Regions from separate parts of the Homo sapiens genome. Here region 1 is linked to region 2. Evidence: fine-mapped expression QTL. Tissue or cell type: fibroblasts. Region 2 holds a variant in brackets; the other region holds the start of a gene. All regions are shown on one strand. Distances are between the middles of the regions. Region 1 holds the start of KAT14 (lysine acetyltransferase 14). Region 2 overlaps KAT14 (lysine acetyltransferase 14).

Evidence for each region. PIP is the estimated chance that this variant, and not a neighbour inherited with it, causes the effect.
Region 1: KAT14 starts here. The variant in region 2 is fine-mapped to the expression of KAT14 in fibroblasts (GTEx, PIP 0.99). The same link has a PIP of 0.9 or more in esophagus muscle.

Annotation. Positions count from the first base shown.
Region 1 is chr20:18,127,841-18,143,386 of GRCh38, reverse strand. It overlaps KAT14 (lysine acetyltransferase 14), which reads right to left and starts at 5,524. Exons shown (of 11, transcript NM_001392073.1): 1 at 5,336-5,524; 2 at 468-1,179. The coding sequence starts at 726. PET117 (PET117 cytochrome c oxidase chaperone) reads right to left here and starts at 5,524. Exons shown (of 2, transcript NM_001164811.2): 1 at 5,336-5,524; 2 at 218-1,179. The coding sequence starts at 5,431. The coding sequence ends at 1,030. RefSeq lists a silencer at 5,036-5,155.
Region 2 is chr20:18,151,288-18,166,833 of GRCh38, reverse strand. KAT14 (lysine acetyltransferase 14) reads right to left here. Exons shown (of 11, transcript NM_001392073.1): 5 at 7,569-7,750; 6 at 4,595-5,011; 7 at 3,889-4,457. Among named protein-coding and RNA genes, the nearest start is that of PET117, 21 kb to the right of the region's middle. The variant T/A (reference allele first, on the strand shown) is at 7,088.

The DNA of each region.
Region 1 (15,546 bases), 23 kb after region 2:
AAAAGACTGGTCCTAGAAAAAGGGCAAAAAACACCTTCAATCTGCTAATTCTAACCTCTTTTCAGTATACAATAGCAGGAGTTCTCCACGTAAGTTAAATATTAACAAAGTAATTTTTATAAACTTGAACATGAATTCAACACTGGGACTGGAATTTGGCCCTAAATCTCTGTGACCTTGTTAGAAAAATATGGCTAATTCTTTAAGTAACACAGGATTTCCAATTTTCTCAATTTTATTGAGTTACCACCAAAAGTGTTAATTTAACAATGTGATAGAGGTTGACAGTACGTTTCATTAGTACAAACATGCCTATGTTTTATATAAATTTATAGCTGATCAACTAGAGAATAAATATAATTATCCTTTTATTTAGGTCTCTTTTACATTCACGTTTCTTTCACAGGTTGGAAAAACAAACCTTCACACAGGAATTGACAAATCAAAGGAATTGAGAAGCTCCTTACTGGCTGGTATCCATTTTTGGCACTTGTCACAGAAGTAGGACAGCTGCTCCTCCATCCAAGACACGTCTCCTTCATCACTGTTGAGGGAATCCCCACTCTGGTCGTGCGATAAGTCCACTGATGCCTGATCCTCGGATTCGACGATCAGGAGCGTCTCTCCCTCCACTTCACCTTCCTCCAGTCCTTCTGAGGTCGATGTTCTCGTGGCTTCGTCATCATGCCGACTGATCAGACTACTCAGGTGGATGCTACTATCCATCCCTTCCTTCTCACAAGCTCGGCAGTGCTTCTCAGTAACAACCCTAAGCACTGGACAGTGACCCTAATGGGGCTTCTACCAGGATCACCCAGACAGACTCTTCCAAAAAGTGTCTGCCCACACTCCTTTATTCAGATATAAGGGACCCTGAAAGCAGTAACTTATATGACCCACTGTCCTTTATTTGATCAAGTTTAAAAGGACAGTGACCAAAAAAAAAGATGAAGATACTACTAAGCTACTCTCCATCAACACACACACACAAACTCGTGTTGTCTGTCCAACAGATATTTCACATTCAAGTCATGATTTTTGAGATCCTTTTGCCAATAACATCTTCTCTCTTTCTGCTTCAAGTTGCTCAGTCAAAATAATCTGTTCTCCCAAAAGACGAATGTTTTCTTTTTTCCGAATTTGCCTCTCAATGTCTCTGATAACTCCGTCACGAAGCCTCTAAAAACGTAAGAAACAGATTTCAGTAACATCCCGAACAGGTGGTCCCCATCCTTGTGCCATTCAAATCCAAATAACAGTGTTACCAAAATATACTTAAAACTTTCAGATTCCAAATACCCAGTTACTATTTTAATTTTCTGTACAAATGTAAAATGTAATAAACGATCAAATAAATTTGGTAGTGTGCTAAATGTTATTACTGAAATGATTTCTTATCATATTTTAAGAAATTCCTGAACATTTAGTACAGAAAATTTAATGGGAAATAACAGAAAAAAAAAACTGGCACTATGTTAAATTTTTTTTTATTTATTTTTTGAGACAAGAGTCTCGCTCTGTCGCCCAGGCTGGAGTGCAGTGGCTGCACTCCGCAGCTCACCGCAACCTCCACCTCCTGGGTTCAAGTGATTCTCCGGCCTCAGCCTCCCGAGTAGCTGAGACTACAGGCGTGCATCACCATGCCCAGCTAATTTTTGTATTTTTAGTAGAGACGGGGTTTCACCACGTCAGCCAAGCTGGTCTCGAACTCCTGATCTCAAGTAATCCACCTGCCTCAGCCTCCCAAAGTGCCGGATTACAGGCGTGAGCCACTGCACCCGGCCAATGTTAAATTTTTAAAGTTTAATTGATATGTAATGCTTTAAAAACTTGGCGAGTTACTACAGTAACACTCTAAACTACTCTTCTGTTAGCACTTATCCTAGCTGAACAATAAACACCAACAGAAAAAATGCAGATTACTAAAATCTCAACTTGGCTTCTAGCATGTAAAGTTAACAATGTAAAAATCATGCAGAATTATTAATTAATTATATAACAGAGAAAGAAGAAAAAGAAGGATGCTACTACCAGCGGAAAAAATAAATGCTCATCAATGGTAGTTACCTTAGTAAGCACTAAAAAACCACAGCACTTCAGAACGTGGACCTGGCACCCAAGAAGAGACTTTTAAAAACATCAGTCATTACTAATAACTAACATTTTATAGTTTATTGCTCACAAAATACTCTAAAGGTTTTAGGCCAGGCGTGGTGGCTCACTCCTGTAATCCCAGCACTCCTGTAATCTTAGGCCAAGGCAGGCAGACTGCTTGAGCTCAGAAGTTCTAGACCAGCCTGGGCAACATGGCAAAATCCCATCTCTAGCAAAAATAAAAATAAAAAAAAAAAAAAAAAAAAAAATTGCAGGGAGTGGTGGTGTGTGCCTGTGTTCCCAGCTACTCCGGAGGCTGAGGTGATAGGATCACCTCAGCCTGGGAGGCACAGGCTGCAGTGAGCTAAGATTGTGCCACTTCACTCCCACCTGGGTGACAGAACAAGCCCCATCTCAAAATAAATAAATAGGGTTTTTTTTGTTTTGTTTTATTGGTTTTTTTTTTTTTTTTTTGAGAAGGAGTCTCGTTCTGTCACCCAGGCTGGAGATCTTGGCTCCATGGCACGATCTTAGCTCACTGCAATCTCCACCTTCTGAGTTAAAGCGATTCTTGTGCCTCAGCCTCCCCAGTAGCTGAGATTACAGGCGTGCGCCACCAGGCCTGGCTAATTTTTTTGTATTTTTAGTAGAGACGGGGTTTCACCACGTTGGCCAGGCTGGTCTCGAACTCCTGACCTCAAATGATCTGCCTGCCTCAGCCTCCCAAAGTGCTGGGATTACAGGCATGAGCTACCGTGCCTGGCCAATAAATGGTTTTTAATAGTGGCTATATAGAGTAGAATTAATGGGAGTGGGGCCCAGGGCCTGCGTATGTTTGTGGGGTTTTTTCCAAATTATTTTACCTATTTTTAAAAACTCACCTAATATAATACCTACTTGCTGGACCTCCTCCAGGCCTACAGCTTCATTATGAGGGATTTGAAGGAGTCCCGGGATTGATATAACTCAACTGAAACACAACTGTCTTGAACCATGCACCCTTGGCAAGATCACCACTGAGACAAAAACGGAGGTGCTTATTCCACTCCCCCAACTGCAGGTCTTCCTGTCCTGTGCTTCTTACACCATGACACACCGATACCCACCCTCCCAAGCCCACACCATTCACCAGAATCATTCCTTCCACACCTGCCTCCCAGATCCTACCCTTCCTTCTCAGAGATGTCACGTGTGCTTATGATCTGGCTCTCCATCCCATCATTTGCTATCTTCCTCTAGGTTTCAAGGTCTATGCTGATTGCCTCACACATCCTTCCTGTGACCCTCACTGAACTACCTTTCTAACAACTTTCCTTACTAATCACTAAAGACCTCTTTATTCTTCCAACCCTAACACCTAGAACTCTGGCTCCTCATGTAGCACTGCTTAATTTTTGCTAGGTTACTGTGAGGATTACAGATGATATACATAAAGTGCTTAATACACTGCCTGGTATGTGGTAGACGGTCAGGAATCAATATTCATTATTTAATTTCTTGCTTCCTTGAACCTTCCGACACATCCACTGTGCTAATCATTTGTCCTAGTCTTTCCCACTGCTATTAATACAATGTAAGCCCCTAATGAAGAACCGGACATAAAAGGAAAAAAAATAAACACACACACACACACACACACACACACACACACACACACACGTTATTTTGGTTCTTCAGCTCTAACTTCCAAATAACCACTTTTCCACTCTGTAACACAATGGTGCTTAGTCCTGTGTTAAAATTCTCTGGGTTACTTTTAAAACATTGTTGAACCAGGTCCCCATCCCCAGGAGATTCTGGTTTAAATGGTCTGGGGTGGGGACCAAGCCTTAGTCACATTGTAAAAACTTTCCGGGAACATTTGATGTTCAGTTAGGGTCCAAAGCCAAGCTCTAATCCATCCCTACCCAAACCCTTCAAACATCACTTCACTGACGTCAGATCATCTGTCATACTAAATTTTACTCCATCTCAAGTTTTCCCAGGATCAACATCTTTTACTTTTCCTTGTAAGAGGCGGAAGTCTTCTGCCTCTATTCCAAAAGCCAGCCCCTTAGGAGCACATTTTAATCCCAAATCTCTGATCTCTCCTGTGCCCTTTCATTGTTAAGTCATCTCAACCCCTCGTCAAAATTCTTGTACCATCACATGCTTCCTCTCTTCTAATTTCCACAGTCTGTGAACACCAAGAACAAAGACCTCATCCACTTCATCTCTGTATATCAAGCACATAGCACAGTCCAAAGGTCTGGGTAGGCAAATCAAGAAAAGACTGTTTACTCTTGATTCATCCAGTCCATTATTTTCACCCTTGGTGAACTAGGTTCAACCCCAATCACTGCCAAGTTGTTTTCTGAAAATTCACCAATGACCCTGTTCTCAGCAAGGTCGTGAATCACTGATAGACTCTGGAAGAGTGGAGTTTCCTTATCTTTGTATTCCCAAGGTGCTTAGTGAGGTAGCTTCCACACAGTAATCACCCATTAAAGGTCTGTCAACTTGAATAAGAAAGAAAATATGAACTGAGAGGACAGAATAGTCACTGCTGATCAGCAGGTCACGGATATTTCCTGAAATAAAAGTACCAAAAAAAAAAATCTGGAGACTGTTATCTCTATCGTTCCCAGATTCTAGTTTCCATAGCAAACTGTTCATTTAAACGAGAAGTGCAAACATCTCACCAAATTATCTTGGTCAAAGGCATGGAGAGTGAGTACGGGGAAGGGGGGCTCCCTTACCATGGGATAAAATCAATAGCACGTAAAACACATTAGGCTTTAACCCCAACCTTGGGCCAGGAGGGAGGCTGGTAGCTTGCAGAATGCACCCCAAGAAACTCCTTCCCCACCTTCTATTTTCTAGCGGCCCAAGTGAGATGTGGAAAGGTCCGCACCCTGCGGGCCGGCTGTGACTTGAAAACAGAGCCACTGGGCACCCCAAAAGCTTGCGTGCCGTGCCTGTGCGGAGCAAGGCCCCTTCAGCGCGGAGCTCCAAAGGCGCTAAGCCGGGCAGCCGGGTCGTCCTGAATCTGCGGGCTGCACACGCCCGCCGGGAGCTGCAGCGCCCGGAGCCCAGCAGAGCGGCCGCCGGCCGCAGCCGCAAACGCGTGGGGTGCAGGGCCGCGCCACCGCGGGGGAAAGACACGAAGAGGAGCTGAGGAACCGAGCGGGCAGAGACCACGAGAGGCCCCAGGTCGACGCCGCGCGCGCGGGCCCGGAAGAGACGGTCACGTGACACCGACCTGCTGGTCCCACTGCTGCTTCACATGTACGCCGGCCACTGTGGCCGCCGTCAGCAGCACCGAGAGGCCCAGCACCACCTTCGAGCTCCTAGACATCCCCACGCTGGCGGCCGCGGCCTCTCTCTCCCGCCCGCCCGAGGCGCAGAGGCCGCCGCAGAGTGCGCACCGCCGCCTGTACTGCCCAGGCTCGACCCCTCGAGCGCAGAGCCCCAGCCGTCGCGTGCGCCGCTCGCCGCTGCCAGGCGTGAGCAATCGAGAGCCGAGCATAGAGCGGCGCCCAGGCTCTACGAACTCTTGGCTTCACTAGGGGCCTCCTGCACACCCCGCAGGCGACAGCGTTAGACCACCCCCGATTCAAATTCTAGGAGTCCCGGCCCAAACTGGCCCCGGCACCTTACCAGGGTGGAGGGTGGGGGTTCCATGCCCCTCAGTCAGTTCAGTACCAACCTCACCCCGGGCGGGGTCTGGATACCGTGCTGACCCCTCTCCCACAGACGTCCCTTCTGAGCCCCTGACTGATCCAGAAGCTTCGCCCAATACCGGCTTCGCCTAAACGCAGCCCCCTCATTGCTCCTTTGGCGGGGCAGGCGCCACCAGGAGACCGCCTCGTTAGGCAGCTTCAGAGGCGCGGGGTTCCCATCCGTGGAGTTTTTGCCTGAGGACCCATTATTAAACGCTGTAGTCGCGGTCACCTGGTTTCACCTTGACGCTGTGGGGCGACTGGTCAGGCTCGGATTATTATTATTATTATTATTATAATTTTGATACAGAGTCTCTGTCTATCGCCCAGGCTGGAGTGCAGTGGCGCGATCTCGGCTCACTGCAACCTTACCGGATTCAAGCGATTCTCCTGCCTCAGCCTCCCGAGAGGATTACAGGCGTGAGCCACCGCGCCTGGCCCCATGTAATCTTTGTGATCACTTTTACACCCAAGTTTCCGCGCCAGTAATACAAGGGAAATAAATGATATAAAGAAGTCTTGCGTTGGGAATAGTTAAGCAATTGTGCAAGACGCATTTTCACTTCTTCCTCGGGTAAAAAAGGCAAGGCCTCCCAGAAACTTTTAAGTATCTGATAGAGCAACCAGTGAAAACGTGTTCATCATTCAATCATTCTTTCCCACTAGAATTCACAGAGAACGAGCTTCTTCCGGTGGACACGGCTATAGGCAGTATTGATTAAGCCTCACCAGGGAGTTTTACAACATTCATTACTGTTCATAGTGCTTTGCTATTCCAGTCTCTTATGTGAGCGTAAATGGCATAAGGGGACTATTGCTCTTAAAGGTATCTTTAAAGATACCTTTTCCAAATGTCATTTTGTCCACAGCATTTTTTGCAGCCTAGAGAGAATGTACCACTGAATTGGAAAATGGAGTTCTTGCTGTAATGAACTTTGAGAAGAAATTCAGTTCAGGGTGTATTTGCATATTTCTCTTTAAAAATTATATTAGACTTCTTTTTATTCGTGGTATATCCTAGATATTTTCCCCTGTAAATCAGTGAGCCTTCAACAGAGCTGTATGTCCTTAGAGTGTACATCAGGGAATTAGATCAATCGCCTTTCATTTTATTGTGACTAATTTTTCAACTTGTTTTCTTGAAATGTACTCTTTTCTTTATTTTCAGGATACTAGAAGCAAAAAAAAAAGTATTCTACTTTTAAGAAATCATTTATTATTAACTGTGTCAAATAAAAAAGTGGGTTGGGGGACTGAGGGAGGTCTTGCAAAAAAAAAAAAGTATGTTTATCTGTTTAAATATTTATAAGCCTAAGCAGTATATTTTCCGTGATTATTGTCGCATAAATTACTGATTTGTGAGAGTGACTGCATATCATCAAACTGAGAAGCAACTATTTTTTTCTTTTTCTTTTCTTTTCTTCTTTTTAATTGAGACAGGGTCTCACTCCGTCGCCCAGGCTGGAGTGCTGTGGGGTGATCTCACTGCAACCTTTGCCTCCCAGATTCAAGCGATTCTTGTATCTCAGCCTCTGGAGTAGTTGGGGTTACAGGCCTGAGCCACCAGGCTGCACTAATTTTTGTATTTTTAGTAGAGATGGGGTTTCACCATGTTGGCTAGGCTGATCTAGAACTCTAGTACTGGGTGCTGGTACTGGGTGTTTGTGAAAATTGGTCCAGTGGCACACCAAGGCTGTGTGGTCACACATACATGCATGATACACTTCTATACAAAATCTTACATAACTATACGAACAGAAAAAAAATGGCTCTTTTTTGTTTCTTTTATTGTCTTTATTTCCTTTTGATTTTTTATTGTGTGTTTTTTTCTTTTTTTTCCCATTGGTTCATAGCCGATGGCTTTACATTTTATCATCACTTCTTGTATCAAATAGCTTTTTGGCTGGGAACGGTGGTTCATGCCTGTATTCCAGGCACTTTGGGAGGCCAAGGCAGGTGGATCACTTGAGGTCAGGAGTTCGAGAACAGCCTGGCCAATATGGTGAAACCCCGTCTCTACTGAAAATACAAAAATTCGCCAAATGTGGCAGCGCATGCCTGTAATCCCAGCTACTTGGGAGGCTGAGGCAGGAGAATTGCTTGAACCCGAGAGGCAGAGGTTGCAGTGAGCCACTGCACTCCAGCCTCGGTGACAGAGTGAGACTTCAACTCAAAAAAAAAAAAAAAAAAGTTTTTTCTCCATGGTAACTATCAAAAATTAAAGAGATGATCATTTAAAAAGATTTTGATCAGCCAGGCGTGGTGGCTCACACCTTTAATCCTAGCACTTTGGGAGGCCAAGGAGGGTGGATCACTTGAGGTCAGGGATTCGAGACCAGCCTGGCCAACATGATGAAACCCCGTCTCTACTAAAAATACAAAAATTAGCCAGGTGTGGTGGTGGGTGCCTGTAATCCCAGCTACTTGGGAGACTGAGGCAAGAGAATCACTTGAGCCCGGGAGGTGGAGGTTGCAGTGAGCCGAGATCAAACCACTGCACTCCAGCCTGGGTGACAGAGTGAGACTCCATCTCAAAAAAAAAAAAAAAAAAAAAAAATCTTGATCAAGAACTATGTGCAGGAGCAATGATCAGGAACTATTTTTAACACAAAACTTGATATTTAAAAGAGACTCCAAGAAGAATGTTATCAGGAAATTTTACCCAAAGTTGATATTTAAATCTACCCCAAGATTTGCTTTTATTTTTCTTCTCATAATTATATGTCATTTATTTTTTTGTTTTTCTTTTTCTTTTTTATAAGAGTACCATATAAAGGAAATGTAAATAATTATTATCCATGAAGCTCCTTTTAGAATTATCCAAGCTCACGCAAGTTGATCCCAGTGAGTTGTACAGATATCCTTATTTTTTATGTTTACCAAGGTGGGACGAAGCTTAGGAAGCATGGCTGATTTAATACAATTTGCTTGTAAGGCCAGAACATCTGAACCTTGTGTATCTGGCTATATTCTAGTGTCTCGGCATCCTAAGATCACATCAGTTCCTGCCCCTCTCAGCTTTGGATTGACTTAGGTGTGCCCAGAATGGCCACTGCTTTCCTGGAGAGGACAGTGGGTGCCTTGCCCTGCCATTGGCTGGCCTTCAGAGTGAACTTACCTCCAAAGACAAAAATAGGAAGCTGACCACCTTAAAAACCGCTCAGTGGCTCCCCATGCCTACAGGATAAAGTCCCATACTCTTTAGAACAGCATACTACCCTGTCCTTCCCTTCAGAATCCTCTAAGCAAGAGGCAGCATCAAAAAAGAAGTACAGTTGGAAGTCAGGGCTTGGAGAAGAATCAACAAATGAAAACTAAGGGGAGGGAATGCAGTCATTTTCCTGTGTTTGAACAACATGGTCACACAATCTTTGTTCCACCTTCACTCACACAAGGGTGGGGACTTGAAAAAAATGCCTTCCTCACTGAGTGTGTAATTTGGCTTATGTTATTTGGGCTTGAATCATGGCCAGGTCCTGGCAGCTATCCTGGGAGAGCTGGGTTTCGGGTCACTTCTGTCTTAAAGAATAGTAAATCACTAGTACCCTAGCAGGAGGTATCAGTAGGAGGCACGGGTTTAAACTGGGCTTGATGGTGGGCATGAATGCAATAGGTCAAGGCAGAGGCTTCAGGCAATGATCAGAAGCTTGTCATCATTGGGGCTGAGAGAGAAGGAGGAGGTGGGAAGGAGGAGGTTTGTTTGGGAAGAAGGTGGAGGGTGTCAGCTGAACTGGCACCAGTGACTGATAAATTTATCAGTCTCAGCACTAAATGATTACAGAAACATCACACCACATGGCACCGCATAAAGCACCATTATGACTATTTTAAATGCAAGCAAGAAGGCTTGCCTTGTGTATGGCCCTGTAGTGGGCTCTATAGGCAGACAAGGCCACGAAATCCCACCTTCTTCAGGCTGAGGCTCTGAAGTCAGCACATAAGGAAAAAGTCAAAAACAGTTAAAACTACCCTTGAAAACATTTTAGGAAGGTGACATGTTGAAGAAAATAGATATTTTCTCAGGAACTCCAAAACAGCCAGTTTTTCTTCTGGTACTGGAATTAATCACCATGAATTCAATGCAGTATCTATATAAGTAATCTGAAATTCTGCACAGGTTTGTCTCTTCTCTCCCATTTAGTAACTGATTCAATCATTTGTTTCTATCAGTGTGGACTGGTGGGTATTTATTTTATACTTTGGGTTATAATCCAATATTACTTTATTTTGTTGCTCAGATGGCTCCCGCTTTGGCCGTTGGGAGATCTTTCAGCTCCTCTGCTTCTCTGACGGACCCTCATCAATGTGTGTTTTTCTTGTTTAGCACTTGTCTATTTTCTGACACTGCACAATATTCTGAGCTAATCTTGTATATTTCCTGCCCAAGTCTCAGAATCTGCCATTTCTCCAAGAATCCAAGGTTCTTTTTATTGTAGAATAATATTGGAATCCAAGATATAGGTCCTGGCATGCTTATTGCTACTGGGGCTTTGTTTCTTTTGGGCCCTCTCAGCTGACAAAGCACATAAATATATGTGTGTATACTTATCTGTGTATGTTACATATCTGCAAATATTTCTATATGTAATCACCTGAATCTATATTGACTAAAATGTGAGATATTGCTGATGTCTGCAACTCTAGTCCATTACCAGATGGATTATTCTAACCTCCTTTTTTTATTGGTAAATTCCTACTCCATCAGTGAGAATTCAGGCTCCCATTTTCCACCATCCACTTGCGCAATTGTTTGATTCCAGTGTACATGTATAGCAGTTTCAGAATTGTTTACCTCATAATTATATGTCATTTTTTTTTTGTGGGAAACAACTTTACCTACTAGAGTACCATGCTTTTTTGCAGTTCCTATTGCTTTTGGCTTTATAGACCTCATTTACTCCAAAGTTACCAAATCAGCACCTTTGCCCTCCACCCCTTCAGTGATATCGTTTCATATGTTTGCAATACAGTTAGATGCTCTTGTCATGGTTTGCACTTTTTCCTAGGATCTTCCTGAGAGTATTTTTTTAACTCCTTTCTTTCTTTCCTTTCTTTCCTTTCCTTCCTTCTTTTCTTTTCTTTCTTTTTTGAGACAGGATCTCACTCATCCAGGCTGGAGTGCAGTGGCACGATCTTGGCTCACTGCAACTTCTGCCTCCTGGATTCAAGTGATTATCCCACCTCAACCTCCCGAGTAGCTGGAAGTGCAGGTGCATGCCACCAAGCCCGGCTAATTTTTGTATTTTTAGCAGATAGAGGGTTTCACCATGTTGGCCAGGCTGGTCTTGAACTCCTGACCTCAAGTGATCCACCTGCCTCAGCCTCCCAAAGTGCATGGATTACATGTGCGAACCACCGTGCCCGGCCTTTTTCACTCCTTTCCATAAACATGATGGAATCAGCATATATCCTCTCTTCATACCGCCCAACTTAGGGATTAGATTGTTTTTAAGCTTTACCTTTATGCCTTTAAATATATTTAGACCTCTGTGCTTGATTTACCATCTTTAAATAATATATTCTGGTCACCAGCTCTAAACATTCAGGAAACCAGCTGTATTAGTTTGTTTTGACATTGCTATAAAGAACTACCTGAGCCTGGGTAGTTTATAAAGAAAAGAGGTTTAACTGACTTACAGTTCCACAGGCTGTACAGGAAGCATGCTTGGGGAGGCCTCAGGAAACTTACAATCATGGCAGGAGGTGAAGGAGAAGCAAGTACATCTTCACGTGGCTGGCAGCAGAGGGAGAGAGAGAGAGAGAAAGGGGAGGTGTTACACACTTTCAAACAACCAGATCTTGTGAGAACTCTACTATGAGGCAGCACTTGGAGGATGGTGCTAAACCATTAGAAACCACCCCCATGATCAAATTACCCCTCATGAGGCTCCACCTCCAACAATGGGGACTACAATTCAACATGATATTTGGGTGGGGACACAGAGCCAAACTATATCACCAGCATACTTGACCTATTTCCTATCTTCTGCTCTTTCTCATTCAACTTTTGTTGGTTATATCACTCCTTCACTGTCAGAGTTTATAACATATATATTTTGCTCTTTTTTTTTTTTTCTGAGACATGGTCTCACTCTGTCACCCAGGCTGGAGTGCAGTGGCTCAATCTCAACTTACTGCAACCTCCATCTCCCAGATTCAAGTGATTCTCCTGCCTCAGCCTCCCAAGTAGCTGGGATTACAGGCTTGTCACCATGCCCAGCTAATTTTTGTATTTTTAGTAGAGATGGGCTTTCTCCATTTTGGCCAGGCTGGTCTCGAACTCCTGACCTCATGTGATCCACCTGCCTCAGCCTCCCAAAGTGCTGGGATTACAGGCGTGAGCCACCACGCCTGGCCTACATTTTGTTCTTTAACCATAATTGCCATGCTTGTTTTCATCTTAGTTGCATCTTTAAATGGATTTGATGGTCATCACCAGTCCTTTCTGTGTCTTTTCTCCATCTACCCTCTATTAGAATCTTTTAAAAAGTGTTGTAGAAACTATATTTCCTGAATTCTTGCACATTAAAAAAACATGTTTGTGTTGTCTTTGTCCCTGAAGTACAGTTCAGCTGAGTAAAAATTTCTTGGGTCACACTTTCTTTGCATGAAGACTATATAGACTTTACCCATCTGTCCTCAAATATCAAATATAGCTGTGGCAACTTGGAGGCCGGTCTAATTTTCTCCTTTTAGTTAATTACTTTGCATAGTTGCTTAAAGCATACTTTCTTTATCTTTGAAGTCCAATAACTTTACAAGAATATATTTTTGAGTCTATTTTCCTTGGACACGAGGTACCCATTCAATTTTTAGATTCATACTTTTAACTCTGGAAAATTTTTTAAATTACATCTGTAAATACATTTTCTGTTCTATTCAAATTTCTCCTTCAGGGACATGAATTATGTGCCTATTGGATCTCCTGTGCCTGCCTGTCACATTTATTACTTTCTGTCTAATCCTTTTTAAACTCTGGTCATTTTAATTTCATTTGCCTTCCTATCTCTTTTCTAATCGATGGGTCTCTCTTACTTCAATGGTATCTAGTCTACTCTGGAAAAGTACACTTGGAAACAATTTTTTAAATGCTTTTTTGAAATTCTACTTATTTACCCAATGCTTTTAACTCATAGTTCATCTTTTTAAAGTTGTGTAAAATACACATAGCATAAAATTTACTAGGTAAACCACGTTTAAGCGTACAACTCAGGGGCATTAAGTACACCTGCACTGTTGTGCAACCAGCATCACTATTCATCTCCATAACTTTTTCATCTATCCAAACAGAAACTGTGTCCATTAAAACGTAACTCCCTATTTCCCCTCCCTCTAGCCCCTGGTAAGCGCTATTCTACTTTCTGCCTCTGTGAATTTGCCTATGTTAGATGCCTCGTATAAGTGGAATTATGCAATATTTGTCCTTTTGTGTGTGACTTATTTCACTTAGCAATAATGCCTTTGAGGTTCATTTATGTTGTAGCACATGTCAGAACTTCCTTCCTCTTTAAGGCTTAATAATATTCCATTGTATGTATATACAACATTTTGTTCATCCATTCATCTGCTGATGGACATTTGAGATGTTTCTACCTTTTGGCAATTGTGAATAATGCTGCTGTGAATGTTGGTGTGCCAGATTCTGATCCTTGCTTTCAATTTTTTCAGATATACAGACAATTCCAGAGTTATGATGGCTTGACTTATGATTTTTCCACTTTACAATGGTGCGGAAGTGATAGACATTCAGTATGCTTCTCAACTTATGATGGGGTTGTGTCCAGATAAATCCATCATAAGTTGAAAATACCAAAAGTCAAAAACTCTGGCCAGGCATGGTGGCTCATGCCTATAATTCTAACACTTTGGGAGGCTGAGGCAGGCAGATCACCTGAGGTCAGGAGTTCGAGACCAGCCTGGCCAACATGGTGAAACCCCGTCTCTATTAAAAATACAAAAAGTAGCCAGGCATGATGGAGCGTGCCTGTAATCCCAGCTACCCGGGAGGCTGAGGTAGGAGAATCCCTGGAACCTGGGAGGTGGAGGTTGCAGTGAGCTGAGATCGCACCACTGCACTTCAGCCTGGGTGACTCCATCTCAGAAAGACAAAACAAATTCCGGGCGCAGTGGCTCATGCCTGCAATCCCAGAACTTTGGGAGCCAGAGGCGGGCAGATCACTTGAGGTCAGGGGTTTGAGACCAGCCTGGCCAACATGGTGAAGCCCTGTCTCTATTAAAAATACAAAAATTAGCCGGGCATGGTGGCACACAGTTGTAATTCCAGCTACTTAGGAGCCTGAGGCAGGAGAATCGCTTGAACCCGGGAGGTGGAGGTTACAGTGAGCCCAGATAACACCACTGCACTCCAGCCTGGGCGACAGAGTGAGACTCTGTCTCAAAAGAAAAAAAAAGTCAAAAACTCATTTTCAATATATGATATTGTCAACTTTTTTTCCCCTATGGGTTCATTGGGATGTAAACCCGGGAGTGGAATTGCTAGATCATAAGGAAATTCCATATCTAACTTTTTAAGGAACTGCCCTCCTGTTTTCCACAGAGGGTGTATCATTTTACATTCCCACCAGCAAGGCACAAGGGTTCTAATTTCTAGATATCCTTGCTGATATGGTTTAGGTCTGTGTCCCTGCCCAAATCTCATGTCTAATTGTAATCCCCAGTGTTGGAGGTGGGGCTTGGTGGGAGGTGACTGGATTATTGGGGTGGAGTTCTCATCAATGGCTCAGCACCATCCCCACTTGGTACTGTATAGTGAGTAAGTTCTCATGAGATCTGGTTGTTTAAAAGTGTGTAGCACCACCCCACTTCCTCTCTTCCTCCTGCTCCAGCCATGAAAGACATGCTTGCTTCCCCTTCACCTTCTGTCATGATTGTGAGTTTCCTGAGGCCTCCCCAGAAGCAGATGCTGCTATGCTTCCTGTACAGCCCGCAGAACCATGAGTCAATTAAACCTCTTTTCTTCATAAATTACCCAGTCTCAGGTATTTATTTATAGCAGTGCAAGAACAGACTAATACACTTGCCAACGCTATTTTCTTTTTCTTTCATCTTCTTGTTTGTCTAATAGTAGTTATCCCAACAAGTGTGAAATGGTATCACATTGAGGTTTTTATTTGCATTTCCCTAATGGTTAGTGGATATTGAACATCTTTTCATTTGCTTATTGGCTATTCATATATCTTAGTTACAGAAAGTTTGAGTCTTTTGCTTTTTGTTTTGAGGCGGAGTTTTGTTGTTGTTGCCCAGGCTGGAGTGCAATGGCACAATCTTGGCTCACTGCAACCTCCGTCTCCTGGGGTTCAAGTGATTCTCCTGCCTCAGCCTCCCAAGTAGCTGGGATTACAGGCATGTGCCACCACACCCAGCTAATTTTGTGTTTTTAGTAGAGACGGGGTTTCTCCATGTTGGTCAGGCTGGTCTCAAACTCCCGACCTCAGGTGATCTGCCCACCTCGGCCTCCCAAAGTCCTGGGATTACAGGTGTGAGCCACCACACCCAGCCTTTTGTTTTTTAAATTGAATTGCTTGATTTTTTGTTGTTAAGTTGTAGGCATTCTTTATATATTCTGGATATTAACCTCTTATCAGACATATGACTTGCAAATATTTTTTCCCATACCATAGGTTGCATTTTCACTCTACTGATAGAATCCTTATGTATACAAAAGGTTTTAATTTTGATAAAGTCCAATTTATTTGTTTTTTCCTTTTATTGTCTGTGCTTTTGGTGTCAT
Region 2 (15,546 bases):
AGGGTCTTTTCAGTATGTTGGTCTCAAATTTTACTTCCCATGCAGCTTTTCTCAGGAAGTCATTAAGAACAAGGGAATAAACCTATAACAAGGTAAAGATGGGCCACAGGAAACAGGAGATCAAATACAGAGGAGGGCAAAAGAATCTCCAGAGAGGGGAGATCCCAACACCCCTGCTGAGTTTCACAACAAAGGGTGAACAAGTGTGACCCAAGGGGCAGACATAGTGTAGAAAGTAAAAAGTTTCCTCTTCAAAGTTTTCCTTCTTGTTAAAGAATAAATCATAAGTGTTAGAAATAACAGTTTCTTTTAAAGACTAACTTTCTTCAAGTCTCCTTGCCTTGTGCTAATAACTCTTTGTTAAGCCCTATCCTCTGTAACCGTTGGACATGCTCACAGGCACGTTCCAGCCCACAGTCTACGCCCCTTCCTTATTTGGAAATGTTATTGCTTCCTTAAACCTTTTGTAAGCAACTTCTTTGTTCTTCCCTGCACTTACCTATTTAGGAAAGTTTTAGGCTATTAGCAAATCGGGTATCAGTTTAAGATTGTGAGGTCCCGCTCCAGCCAGTGGATGCAGGACACAGCAGTAAGGACGACCCAAGTGCGTAAGGGATAAATATGTCTGCTTTTCCTGTGTTCAAGTGTGCTCTCACCTTTGTTCCATCTGCAACTGAGCACCCTTTCTACAGAAAGAAAAGATGGCCTTGCTGAGATACCTTTTGTCTCTGTGCTGACTTTTCTTCGCAGCACCGATTATCTATTTCTAACAATTTTGGTATTTCTAACACATATTGAGGCTATCATCCTTAAGTCCTTGCTGCCACTGACCATCTTTTAAACCTATGGCGTCGTGGCCCAGAATCTTATCTACGCTCAGCTTGTCTTCACCATGTACAGGTGAGCCTCCTGTACACCACCCATGCCCACCCCAAAGACCAGCTGATGATGCTCACTCCACAAATAACTGCTTTGACCTTCTGCAAGCTGGAAGGAAGCTGTCAGCTCAGGCAGGAAATACAGAGGATCCCACTTCCTCTGCCCAGATTTCTGCCGCATCTCTGGTATACATCACAGCCCTGGCTGATGCATACGCTATGGTGAGCCTCATGTTTCCCAGGACTCCCTAGTGACCTTGGCCAGTGACTACCTCAGAAGGGGTTCATGGAAGCCGAAGCCAGAACATCACTGTAAGTATTAGTTTCCCAGGGCTGTAGGAACAAAGCACCACAAACTGGGTGGCTTAAAACAACAGGAATTTATTGTCTCACAGTTCTAGAGGCCAAATGTCAGAAGTCACAGTGTGGGCAGGGCTATGCTCTCTGGGGTACGCACTAGGGGAGAATTTGTTCTGTGCCCTTCTCTTAGCTCCTGGTGCTGCCGGCAATCCTTGGTGGTCTTGGCTAATTATATTTGCAAAGGGCCTATTTCCAGATAAGGCTGCATTCATAGGTACCAGGGTTGGGACTTCAACATATGCTTAAGGGGGACACAATTCAGTCCACAACAATGACCCAGAATGACTATTTAGCTTATCTTCTCCAGGAAACTTCATCTAATAGTGGCAATTTACTTACACAGCTAGATTTATGCTTGCTACTCAGTATTTTTTTAAACGAAAAGTATATCATTTAGAGACATACACATTTAAAAAGCAAAAGAATAATTAACACTGTAAGTCAAAGTGGCTTCCTCTGAGGGGAACAGAAAGTACACAGGAGACTTCTAAGGTGTTTACAACACTCTTTATCCAGGAGATGAATACATGGGCATTTATTTTACTAATATCTAAATTATACCATATTTCTATGCTGCCTTCTATCTGTATGACACATCTTACAATTTAAAAAATTAAGTATAGGCAGTAAACAGACAGGCCCACAAGAATAAGAACAAAGAACAGGTGAATATTGGCCAGGCGCAATGGCTCATGCCTGTAATCCCAGCACTTTGGGAGGCTGAGGCGATCACTCGAGCCCAGGAGTTTGAGATCAGTCTGGGCAAGATAGTAGGACCCTGTCTCTACTAAAAATAAAAATTAAAAAAAAAATTAGCTGAGTGTGGTAGTGTGTGCCTATAGTACCAGCTACTTGGGAAGCTGAGGTGGGAGAATTGCTTGAGCCTGAGAGTTCGGGGCTGCAATGAGCTGTGGTTGTGCCACTACATTCCAACCTGCGTGACAGAGAGAGACCATGTCTCAAAAAAAAAAAAAAAAAGAACAAGAACAAGTGAATAGATGACTAACAAAAGCATATGAACAAGCAGCAAATGACTTAACAGACCAAAGAAAGCCAATACCTAAGCCAGTGGTGAAGCTAAGCAGGGTGATTTACAAAACACAGCCTCAGGGAAGTGTAGTCACCTAAGGCATCAGGCTTAGAGCCTGGGGGGTATGACTATGGATTGTGAGGCTCTTTAAGAGGTTAAAGGCTCCAATTATACCCCTATAGTAATTATACTGCCCACATCTAGGAAATGATCTTTCCCTCCACGGGCAGAAGACTGGAGAGGCTCAAGAGGGAGATTCTGGACACAGGAAGCCAAGGGTGGGAGTACTGTACTGAAGACAGGGAGAGTCAGTTTACCTCCTAAACGATGGGCTCCTGGGCCCTCCCGACTTGGCTCCTGGTAGGCAGGCCAGTTAATACTGTGCTTCCCAGGAAAGATGGGAATTAGGAAAAAAAAGAAAAGAGGATCTATCTGGAGTAGGGATCTTGGTAAACTATAGCCCCCAGGCTAAATCCAGTCCACTGCCCATTTTAGTAGATAAAGTTTTACTGGAACACAGCCACACTCATTCACTACGGCTCTCCAATCACAACAGCAGAGTTGAAGAGTTCCGAATGAGATTTTGTGGCCGGCAAAGCCTAAAATAATTACTATCTGGCAGAAATACTTATTTCTTTACAGATAAAGTTTGCCAACTTTTAATCTACAGGGTCCAATATCCAAATAATGGGGAGTTCTAAAATGAGAGAACAGAAAAAATAGAAGATAGGAAATCAAGACTTTTCCATACTCAGGAAAGAAAGTTTCAAATTGAAAGGGCCCACACACCACATGTCCAGCACAAGGAAAGACATAAGCCCTACATACGGCACATCACTGAATAATACCAGAACACCAGCAATGAAGAGCAGATCCCACTAGCTTCCAGAGAAGAGAGAAAAACATGCAGACTCCAAACAGGCAATTCACAAAGAAACAACCAGGAAATTTAACCTCACCTGTAACCAAAGAAATATAAATAAAAAACAAGATTTCACTTTACAGCCAGCCAATTAGCAAAACTTAAAGGCTGGTTAGTGTCAAGTGCTAGCAAAGATAAAGGGAATAAGGCCTCTTGTTCCTCCCAGTGGGAGAGTATATACAGGTAGTTCTAAGTGGAATTAATTGTTCCCAGAAGCATCCACAAAATTTGGGTTCCACCGACCATCCTTTGAGCAACACTGATACCACACTGATCCCTTGGCTGCTATTTCTTCATGTTGTCCTTCGCAGATGTCTACACACCTTCAGATCCTCTGCAACACAGTGTCAGAGACACCGTCATGGCCTCAACAAATTTGTCAAAGCTACGACACAAACCATGCATATCTATCCTCAGAGAGAGAGAGACAAGAGAGACAGATGAAGAAAACTTATAGGTTATGTTTGAATGCCTAAAGGAAAAGAAAAACTCAGATGTATTCAGGTGTACTTACAATGAACAATTCTGAAAAATAAAGCCCAGCGATTTTTGTATTTTTTTCCCTTGCACTTTACTTTTCTCTTCCCAAATTACTCAGGATTTAAAAGGTCACAGCATAACCATGTCCAATGCCTAGTGCTGCCTGCCCCACCTCCACTCCTGCCCCCAAGGGCTTTACAGCAAGTGCTTGCATTCACCTGGTATCGGTCAAGGATTCTGAAGTCCTGACAGGTGGTTCTGTACGTGGCTTGTCCAGCTGGAAGTCTGGAAATTCCTCCTTCTTTGGCTCCATAAATCCCGTCAACTAACAAAAGAGCAGCATTAACAACTTGATCCAAGTCAAAAAGTGGTAATCCCCTATCCCTTTTCGCTTGTCTGACAATCAGTTTGCGTTTCAGTCTCCGAGCTTCCGGAGTCATGGCAACAGCACCGGGACAAGCTTCCAGCCTCTTGAGCAGCAGCTTTTCCTCGTAGATGCTCACGGGAGTATACCTGGGCTCTTTCGGCTTTGTGTCCTTCTCCAGCTGAGGCTTCCTCTTTTCTCTAGCCCTTGTTTGCAAAGATGTGTTTGAATCTGTGTCTTCACTGTCAATATCCATCCTGTCGGGTTTTTCCTCCTCACTCTCTACCTCCTGCTTTATCTGTTCAGGGCCTCTGACCTTCTTTCTGACCCCAACCACTGGCCCAGAAGCTACTGACCCAGCAGGGGGTGGGACGTACTCCATCCCTGGGTCTATGACTCCATCGCCTTCCATCTCATCGTCATCTGTGCAGAGTACAAAACAGTGTCATCAAGACATAGGAAGGAAGAAATGCAGAGCACACAGCCCACGGGGTGAAAACTTGTACATTTATACCATGGCCCATACCCAAAATAAAAGAGCAAAGCAAACAAACTCTTACCATGAAACAAGGCTTGTGGGGGCATCACATCTGGAATCAGATCTGCTTCTGAAAGCAAGCTAGGTGTGGCAGAATGAGAGGCAGGTGTACCAGGGGCAGAGAAATCCAGAGAAGGAGAAGGAGATGGGCTTGTCAGCGGGGTGCGGTCAGAGGAGCTCAAGGAGGAAAAGTCAATCACTTCGCCTTTTTCCAGAATCACATCTGGCCTGCGGCCTCGGCTTATGAATTTTACAGGGGTAGAAGATGTGCTCCTGTCAAGAAAGCCAGCGGCCTCCTTCTGGGCTCTTCTAATGTCTTTTGCTTCCTGAGTTCGAGACCTTTTCTCTTTTAATTCCATGGCAGATTCCACAGGATTCCGACTTGCTCGTTTTCTAAGTCCCTCAACAGTAATGATGGGATCTAAAGTTGGTTTTGAGGCTGCTAAGAAAGAATAAATACAGGCTGAGTATCCCTCATCTGAAATGCTTGGGCACAAGCATGTTTTGGATTTCAGATGTTTTCGGCTTTTGGAATATTTGCATTTTACTTATTGGCTGAGTATCCCAAACCCAGAAATACAAAATCCGAAATGCTGCAAATGAGCATTTCCTTTGAGCGTTATGTCAGTGCTGAAAAAGTTTCAGATTTTGGAGTGTTTTTGATTTTGGATTTTCAGATTTGGATTGCTCAACCCATATCTAAATTTTAAAATAACTACTCAACTTTAGTTTCTTTTGCTAATTTATTATTATGAGTAATATCATGTTCAATAAAGAGAAATGTTCAATGAATGCCCTAAACTAAAAAAGACTTAGATATCTCTTGAGAAAAAAGAAGTTATACTGCAAATTTAAACAAATAAATACTATCTTTCACCTACTGGAACTGGCAAACATTAAAAGTTTAGCCAGGCGTGGTGGTGCACGCCTCTTAATCCCAGAACTTTGGGAGGCTGAGGTGGGTGGATTTTGAGCCTGGGAGGTGGTGGCTGCAGTGAGCCAAAAAAAAAGTTTGATAAAGCTCAGTAAATGTATGGGGAAATGGGCATTTTCATGGGCATTTCAATGGGTACTTTTTTTTTTTTTTGAGACAGGGTCTTGCTCTGTCACCCAGGCTGGAATGTTAGTGGTGTGATCTCGGCTCACTGCAACCTCCGCCTCCCGGGTTCAAGCAATTCTCCTGCCTCAGCCTCCAGAGAAGCTGGGATTACAGGCATGCGCCATCACGCCCGGCTGATTTTTGTATTTTTGTACAGATGGGGTTTCATCATGTTGGCCAGGCTGGTCTCGAACTCCTGACCTCAGATGATCCACCTGTCTCGGCCTCCCAAAGTACTGGGATTACAGGCATGAGCCACCATGCCCGGCCTTATTACAGTTTCTTGGAGGATAATTTGGCAATCCTGATTAAAATTTTGAATGAATATGCCCTTTGATGTAGAAACTCCAGGAATTTATCACATTTTCACATGTACACAAATTTGTAGAATTGTAGCACTGTTTAAAGTAACAAAAGGTCAGGCATGATGGCTCATGCCTGTAATCCCAGCACTTTTGGAAGGAGAGGCTGGAGGATCACTTGAGCCCAACAGTTCAAGACCAGCCCAGGAAACATGGCGAGACCCTATCTCTATTACTTTTTAAAAATGTTTTAATTAAAAAATAAATAAATAAAATAGCAACAAAAAGGTAGAAACAACCAAAATGTCCATCAACAGGAGAATGGTTTAACAAATTATCACATAATTATATAATGGATGTAATGAAATAAAATAGGGTAAATCTACATGTACTGTCATGGAAAGATGTCCAAGACATACTGGTAAGTGTGGCAAAAATGGAAAACTCATAATAGTACGAGTCCATTTTACTTTTTTAAAAAACTAAGAAAATGCTTAAATCTGCAGAGATCTTTCTGAAAGTATTCACAAAAGACAACAGTGGTTACTCTGGGAAGTGAAATTGCAGGCCATAGGCAGGTGGGGGAACTTTCATACTTTACACCCTTAAGTACTATTTGATTTTCTTCCCAATCATATTTTTAAAATTTTAAAAGCTCATCAGCCTGATCCGGTGGCTCACCCTGTAATCCCAGCACTTTGTGAGGCCAAGGCAGGTGGATCGCCTGAGGTCAGGAGTTCGAGATCAGCCTGGCCAACATGGCAAAACCCCGTCTGTAATAAAAATACAAAAATATTAGCTGGGCATGGTGGCATGTTATTTGGGAGGCTGAGGCACGAGAATCATTTGAACCTAGGAGGCAGAGGTTGCAGTGAGCAAAGATTGCACCACTGCACTCCAGCCTGGGCAACAAAGCGAGACTGTACCTCAAATAAATAAACAAACAAGCAAACAAATAAATATAAAAATTTAAAAGCTCATTAAAAGCTTTTTAGATTATAAAACCAGATCAATATGTGATAGTAAGAAGTCACTGTTAACATCTTTTTAAATATGAAAATGGCATTATGGTCAGGCTGCAAAAAGGAAAGAATCCTGATCTCTTAGAGATACA[T/A]ACTAAGATATTTAGGAATGAAATGTTGATTCCTGGGATTTGTTTCTAAATAATCCAATTGTAAGAATGGGGAAGGTTGGGGAAAAGTACTGAGGATTTAGATAAAATGAGACTGTCAGGAGTTAATGTCAAAGTGAGGTGGAAGGTACATGGGAATTCATCATGTTATTTATTACGGGAATTTTAAAATATCTCTTCACCTTTGTGAGAAGTTTAAAAACAAAAACCAGATGGAAAACATTGAACCTTTCAGATACCCTGGGAAATTTATAAAACTGATAGCTTGATTAGGAAGTGATAAAATGTTTTTATGTGGCATTTATTTCTAGCACACACACAAGTGTCATCACAGAAGTGTTAAACAGAGTAGCTCCAGAGAGGCCTGCGAGCCATGCCCAGTGGAAGCAGGAGCGTCTCCTGGGCTCACACCTGCTTGGCTCTGGTCTGACTAGCAACTTTTGTACTGTTCTCACAACAGTACCTTTTATTTTCAAAGTAGAGGCAGACAACTTCTCTCCTTCAGGTTTCATCGTTGGGGGCTTGTTATGAACAAGTTTCCACCATCCTGGCTCTCCAAATTCCTGAGCACCTGAACGGAAGTACATGGGACTTCCCACGCTGAGGCAACCTGCCACGGTGCTCCACCAGGTAGACGTCTTTTTCCTAAAGAGTCCAAGAATTTAAAAATGATTGGCACTTTTGCTCATTATACAGAAAAGACAGTCTGTGTATACTGTGACTCCTGGCCTGCAACATGCAATGGCACCTCCAGCTACTGAAGGAGCAGAGCACGAGAGGCAGGAGAGAGGCTCTGGAGTTCGCCTGCTTCAAACCCTGGCGCTACCAACTTCTAGCAGCCTCGGTTTGTTCATCTGTAAAATCAGGATAATAGAACTTACCTCACAGGGTTGCTGTGAGGATTAAATGCAATAATTCAAACAAAGCACGTGAAATACTTCTCATCACAATCATCACGATTATGGAATTCTACAGGCTAATTTTAATTAAGTTGCTTTGTTATGTGAATTAAGCACAGCTCCCAAGAATAAAGCATACAAAAAGTGTAACTCCAAGGCTGGGCATTTTGTGATAGAAGTTAACTGGCTCCAGTAAATACCTCATTTTACCCGAGGAGTAGCACACATCTCTCAATCTGATCCTATCTGCCTCGATGCACTAGAGTGGTAACAAAACTATGTGGTATACTCCACAAACACAGAGAGCACCTACTGCACAACAAAATAACAAAACATGCAAAATGCCAACTATCCGGGTTCCCTAACGGAAATTCTTTCAAGGCGACTGTTCTATTTCCACCTTGAAAAGATACATCAATCCCCGGAAATCCTAGAAGACAGTCTTTCACAAGAAGACCAGTCTAACAGTTGGAAGGTATTGCTGGGAAGGCAAAGGAAAACCATTCTGAGGAACAGAGACGTAATATTAATAGAAAACTCAGAAAATAAACAAAACAAATAAGCTCAGCTATAGTAGGCATAAGCACTATCTGAGGCTGGGTGCGGTGGCTCACGCCTGTAATTCCAGCACTTTGGGAGGCCGAGGCGGGTGGATCACCTGAGGTCAGGAGTTCGAGACCAGTTTGGCTGACAGGGTGAAACCCCGTCTCTACTAAAAATACAAAATTAGCTGGGTGTGGTGGCACATGCCTGTAATCCCAGCTACTCGGGAGGGTGAGGCAGGAGAATCTTTGAACCCGAGAGGCGGAGGCTGCAGTGAGCCAAGACTGCACCATTGCACTCCAGCCCGGGCAACAAGAATGAAACTGGGTCTCAAAAAAAGCACTATCTGAGATGGAGAGAATGAAACCCCCAAGCTTTTGGTTCCAAAGTACCTCTCCTACATTCTTATCTTTTTCTAATCTTTCCAAATCCTCTCTAATAAATACAAAATGTAGCATAAACACATACAATAGAATATTATTCAGTCTTAAAAATAAAGGAAATCCTATCACATACTGCAATGTGGATAACCCTTGAGGACACTTATGCTAAGTGAAATAAGCCAGTCCCAAAAAGACAAATACTGTATGGTTCTACATATATGAAGTATTTAGAGTAGTCAAATTCATAGACACAGAAAGTAGAATGGTGACTGCCTAGAGCTGTGGGGAGGGGAGAATGGAGAGTTATTTAATAGGGATAGAGTTTCAGATCTGCAAGCTGAGAAGAGTTCTGGCCATCTGTGAATCTATATTCAAATACGTGAACATACTTAACACCACTGAACTGTACACTTGGAACTGGTTAAGATGGTAAATTTTCACTGTTTTTACTGCAATAAACAAACAGAAGTCTGGGCAACATAGTGAGACCTCATTTTTACAAAAAAATAAAAATAAAAAAATTAGCTGGGTGTGATGGCACGTGCCTGTGGTCCCAGCTACTTGGGAGGTTGAGGTGGGAGGATCACTTGTGCCTGGGAGGTAGTGGCTGCAGTGAGCCATTACTGTGCCATTGCACTCCAGCCTGGGTGACAGGGTGAAACCCTATCTCAAACAAACAAAAACAATAAAAAAGACTGACAAAGACTCAAAAGATTTTAAAAACCAATGTGTTATTTACTGTGTCGAAAACGGGTGCGTACTTGTACATTGACAGTGGGACTATAAATGGGCATATACTTTCTGGAGGTTACTTTCATAATGTACAGCAAAATTGTGTGTATCCTCTGACCTCGCAAATCTACTTCTAATCACAAAAACACAAAGGATATATATACAAGAATATGCCCCACAAGGCTAACTTAAACACAGAAAAACTGGAAATAACATAAATGTTTATAAAATTATCGGCCAGTGTTACAGATTTCATCGTATCCTCCCAAAAGATGTTGGAAGTCCCAGTACTTGTGAATGTGACCTTATGTGCAAACAGTGATCATGAGGTCATTAAGTTGAACACTAATCCAATATGACTGGTGTCCTTACACAAAGGGGAAACTTGGACACAGAGACAGACGTGTAGAGAGGGAAGATGCATGAAGACACAGGGAGAACGTCATCTACAAGCCAAGGAAGGCCTGTGGCTAACAGAAGCTAGGGGAGAGGCATAAAATACTCTCTCCCTCACAGCCTTCAAAAGGAACCAATCCTATCAACACCTGGATTTCAGATTTCCAGCCTCTAGAACTAGAATACATTTCTGTTGTTTAAGCCATCCAGTTTGTGTTACAGCATCATTAGCAAACTAATATAGCCAGCTAAATCACAGCACAACACATAATGAGACATTTGTATGGAATGGAATAAATTTGTTGCCAGGACATATACAAACACAGTATTTATGAATGGCCTCAATAGTTTTCCCCCAAAATTATTATTGTGGTAAAATATACATAACATTTACTATCTGAACAATTTTTAACAGTATAGTTCAGTGGTATTAAGTACATTTATATGGTACAATCACCACCACCATCCACTTTCAGAACACTTTTCACAGGGCAAAACCGAAACTCTATATCCGTTAAACAACTCCCAATTCCACCCTCCCCGCCAAGTGCTGACAACCACCATTCTACGTTCTGTATCTGTGATTTTCACTACCCTAAGTATCTCAGATAAGTGGAATCACACAGTGTTTGTTTTCTTGTGATTGGTTTGTTTCACACAGCATAATGTCCTCAAGGTTCATCTACACTGCAGCATGTGCCAGAATGTCCTTCCTTTTTAAGACTGAATGATATCCACTGTATGTATATGCCACATTTTGCTTATCCATTCATCTACTGATGGACACTTTGGTTGCTTCCACATCTCAGTTATTGTGAATAATGCTGCTAAAAACATGGATATACAAGTATCTCTGAGACCCTGCTTTCAGTCCTTTTGAGTATATACCCAGAAGTGAAATTGCCAGATCATATGATCATTATATTTTTAACTATTTGAGGAAACACCACACCATTTTCCACAACGATTGTACAATTTTACATTCCCACCAACACTGCAAAAGGGTTCCCATTTCTCCACATTCTCGCCCACAGTTGTTGTTTTGTTTCTTTGATAATTGTCATCCTAAGAGGCATGAGGTGGTATCGTGTTATAGATTTGATTTGCATTTCCCTAATGATTAGTGATGCTGAGCATCTTTTGATGTGCTTATTGGCCATTTTAATATCTTTGAAGAAGTGTCTATTAAATGCCTTTACCCATTTTTGCAATGAGGGGAGCTATAACAACAATGGCTGCCATCTCTTTTCACCTCTATGATTAGAAGCAGCAATCAGTGATCAGAGCACAAATACCCAGTATTTGGAAAACAGGCTTATTTTTGCCCACCCTGGATGCTACAAGCTGTGTGTAAGCCACTCCAGGAACACACACACAGCTTTCTTCCTAGTGGCTGGAGAAGGGGGATGGGTAGCACCAAAAAAACCCCCACCTTTTTACATTTAAACTTTAATAACATATTAAAGGCATAAAAGAAAAACCTGTAAACATCTGAAAGAAAATTCAGAACTTCATTACACTGTATAGCATTCTCTTAGATCTTGTGACAAATGAGAAATGGTTACAATTTTTAAGAATTTAAAGTATGTCCTGGCCAGGTGCAGTGGTTCACGCCTATAATCTCAGCATTTTGGGAGGCCAGGCGGGTGGATCACCTGAGGTCAGGAGTTCAAGACCAGCCTGACCAATAAGGTGAAACCCTGTCCCTACGAAAAATACAAAAATTAGTCGTGCATGGTGGGGTGTGCTAACCTAAATAATTTTATGTACCATTGTAGAAACAAGTTAAAAAGTATATGAAAACTTAGTTATTACTGAATAATTGCCTAGTATTTGTTCATTTAATCTGCTTTTACAGTCCTGGCCTTGAATTCTTCCAGAAGGTATAGTTTTGATTAGTGAAGAATAGCTTGAATATTTTCTTCTACTACCATATTTTACTGATTTTAAGATACGTAATTTTGCAAATTTTGACATCTCTGACAGCTAGATACATCTTATAGTTACTGATATGTCATAATTTAATTGGTAGTTAGCTCTTATTTGTACACAAAATGGTGTATCTTAAAGTTAATGGATCTTAGAATTGATGAAATATGATAGTACACATTCATAGTATCTACACTTCAATCAACTTTACGAGGATTCTGGGAAGGTGGCAGATAGGAAGCATTTGCCTTCCTGCCTGGACAGCAGTTGCACTGGCAGAATCTGACTGATGGAACTATTTTGGGACTCTGGAGTCTAATAAAGGCTTGTGGTTTCCAAGGGAAGGCATAGACAGTAGACTGCGGTTAATACTGGTCAATTTTAGTTCTTAATGCAGTAGCAGCTACTCCGGAGGCTGAGACCGGAGAATTGCTTGAACCTGGGAGGCGGAGGTTGCAGTGAGCCGAGATCACGCCGCTGCACTCCAGCCTGGACGACAGAGCAGGACTCCGTCTCAAAAAAATAAGTAAGTAAGTAAATAAATAAAGTACGTCCTATGGATAGCAGAATGAAAATCTTTAGTAGCTATGAAAAAAGTGTACCTTAAATATAAATGCTCTTTACAGACAGCTTCTCTGGGGTACGGTAATCTTGTTAACATTCATACACAGAAATGTCTGAGCAAGTGGTAACTACCCAGGGGTAGTGGTTTCAGGGGACTTCTCCAATCACTGATATTTCAAGTGGAGTTCCCAAAGTGAAGAGCAGCACTGTAGCATGAAACCGGGTGGCAAGAATCATAAAGTGATTTCTAATTCTCTTTTGCTTCTTCTGGTTAGATCAAAAGAAAGTTTACTGCTTTAAATTCTCATTAACACTTGTAGCAGCCTCCCTTTTTGACTGGAAAAGAAAGCCATGGCTTGCCATTATATGCCATGGGATCCAGCTACAATTTAACAGCATTGTTTTATTTTTATTGTTACATTCTACTTATGACAATTTATATAGGTTTCCCACTTACCATGGTGATGTTAAGTTTCTTTTTAAAATTAATGTATTTTTCAGGTGACTTGATTTAAATAGGAAGATCAAATAAATAATAATTCCGGTGATATACCAATATGGCCAACACACTAAATAAACTACACAGAAACTGGAGAGTAATTAATGCCTTTCATTGGCATGTTAAAAAGAAATAAGGCTCAGCTGATTCCTCTCAGAACATGCTCTAGAAATGAACAAATGAAGCATTTAAACAACTTCTGTTAAAATCCAGCAATATTTTTAAAAACAGGCAATCTAAATCTAATTTTTTCCAGGAGATAACCCACTAAATAGGACAGCACTCGAAGATCATGAAAACATTCCAAGATCCAATTTTATCAGTTTTTTCCCTTTCTTATCCCTTATAAATGGGGTACATTAAGGTCCATAAATAGTGCTAAATCATTAAACTAAACAACAGATTTCTTTTCCTTATGAGAAAGAACCAGTTATAGTGTCGATTCTTTTCTTAGCACCAATAAATAGCTCAAGAACTAAAATAACCCCTTTTGCAAAAATGTAGGGAGTCTATTCCATTTTCTCACAGCAGCCTGCAGGTCACCCTCCTTCTGACTACCCTCCCGTACTCTCAGTAACATGAGCAAAGCTGTGATTCCTCAGCTTCTGAAGAAACAGAGGCTGCAGTGAACCCCAAGTGAGGAAAGGCATGAACTCCCTGCCCTGACCTGAAGTGATCAAAGACTTTGTCATGTCTAAACTAACCTCATTATGTAAGATTCATGAATCTCACACAGGACTTCAGACAGCAACTAACAATCAGAATCTCAAACAAAAATTCACCAGTGTGGTAGCAAACTCACAAGTACCCAAGAGCAATAAAAGTCTTGATAGATCCACGTGGACATTTAGTGAAAATATATGGTCGCAAGGTCTGTGCATCGGCATCCCCGAGTCTAATGCACCAAAGCAGCCACTGGGGAGAGCACACAGCAGCAAACTCAAAGCGCAATGATAAACACAGTGACCAATGAACAAGCCACATGCAGATGTGCCCAGACTTTGCTAAGCACTATGAAAAATAGTTAAAAATAAAAAAGAGTGTCTACTTTACAGAGTTAAAAACAAATACTAGTAATACAAAACTCTATTAACTAAGGGCAACCTAAATAGATGCAGTCAGTAACTGCCATTATTTTTCCTGTCTTGTCCTCCTAGAAGGCACTGCTCTGTTTTGGTTCTTTTTTTGGTTGGTTGTTTGTTTGTTTGAGATGGAGTCTCGCTGAGTCACCCAGGCTGGAGTGAAGTGGCCCCATCTCAGCTCACTGTAACCTCCGCCTCCCAGGTTCAAGCGATTCTCCTGCTTCAGCCTCCCGAGTAGCTGGGATTACGGGCACCCGCCACCAAGCCCAGCTAATTTCTGTATTTTTAGTAGAGATGGGGTTTCACCATGTTGGCCAGGCTGGTCTCGAACTCCAGACCTCAGGTGATCTGCTCGCCTCGGCCTCCCAAAATGCTGGGATTACAGGCCTGAGCTACCGGGCCCAGCCTGGTTGGTGTTTTCTAAGAGATGGGGGTCTCACTATACTGTCCAGGCTGGCTTCAAACTCCTGGGCTCGAGTGATCCTCCAACCTTGGTCTCCTGAGTAGCTGGGACAACAGGCATGCCCCACCACACACAGCTTAAAAGAATATAATAACCCTATCTCCTCAAGTGAAATATTGACTTATCCAACTCTTGAACAGTCTCATGTAATACAACTCTTATTTTTTAACATTCTAAGAATTTCTTCAAAAAACGTCATGTTCAGTTGAAACAAACATCTTTTTTTTTTTTTTTTTGAGATGGAGTCTCACTCTGTTGCCCAGGCTGGAGTGCAATGGCGCAATCTTGGCTCACTGCAACCTCCACCTCCTGGGTTCAAGCAATTCTCCTGCCTCAGCCTCCTCAGTAGCTGGGATTATAGTTGCCTGCCACCACGCCCAGCTAATTTTTGTATTTTAGTAGAGATGGGGTTTCACCATGTTGGCGAGGCTGGTCTTGAACTCCTGACCTCAGGTGATCCACCCACCTCGGCCTCCCAAAGTGCTGGGATTACAGGCATGAGCCACTGCGCCCAGCCAAGTTTTTTTTTTAATCTTAAAAAAGTAAAAATATTCTCTGGAATTCAAAAATTTTCGTAATTGCCACAAGTAAACACTCTAAATCTCTAACAAGGTAAGGAACGGTGATTCACACCCACCATAATCCCAGCACTTTGGAAGGCTAAGGCAGGAGAGCTGTTTGAGCCCAGGAGTTCAAAACCAGCCTGAGACAACACGAGACCCCTGTCTCTACAAAAATATAAGGCCAGGCGCAGTGGCTCACGCCTGTAATCCAAGCACTTTGGGAAGCCGAGGCAGACAGATCACTTGTGGTCAGGAGTTCAAGACCAGCCTGGCCAACATGGTGAAACCCCGTCTCTACTAAAAATACAAAAATTAGCTGGGCATAGTGGCAGGTGCCTGTAATCCCAGCTACTCAGGAGGCTAAGGCAGGAGAATCGCTTGAACCCGG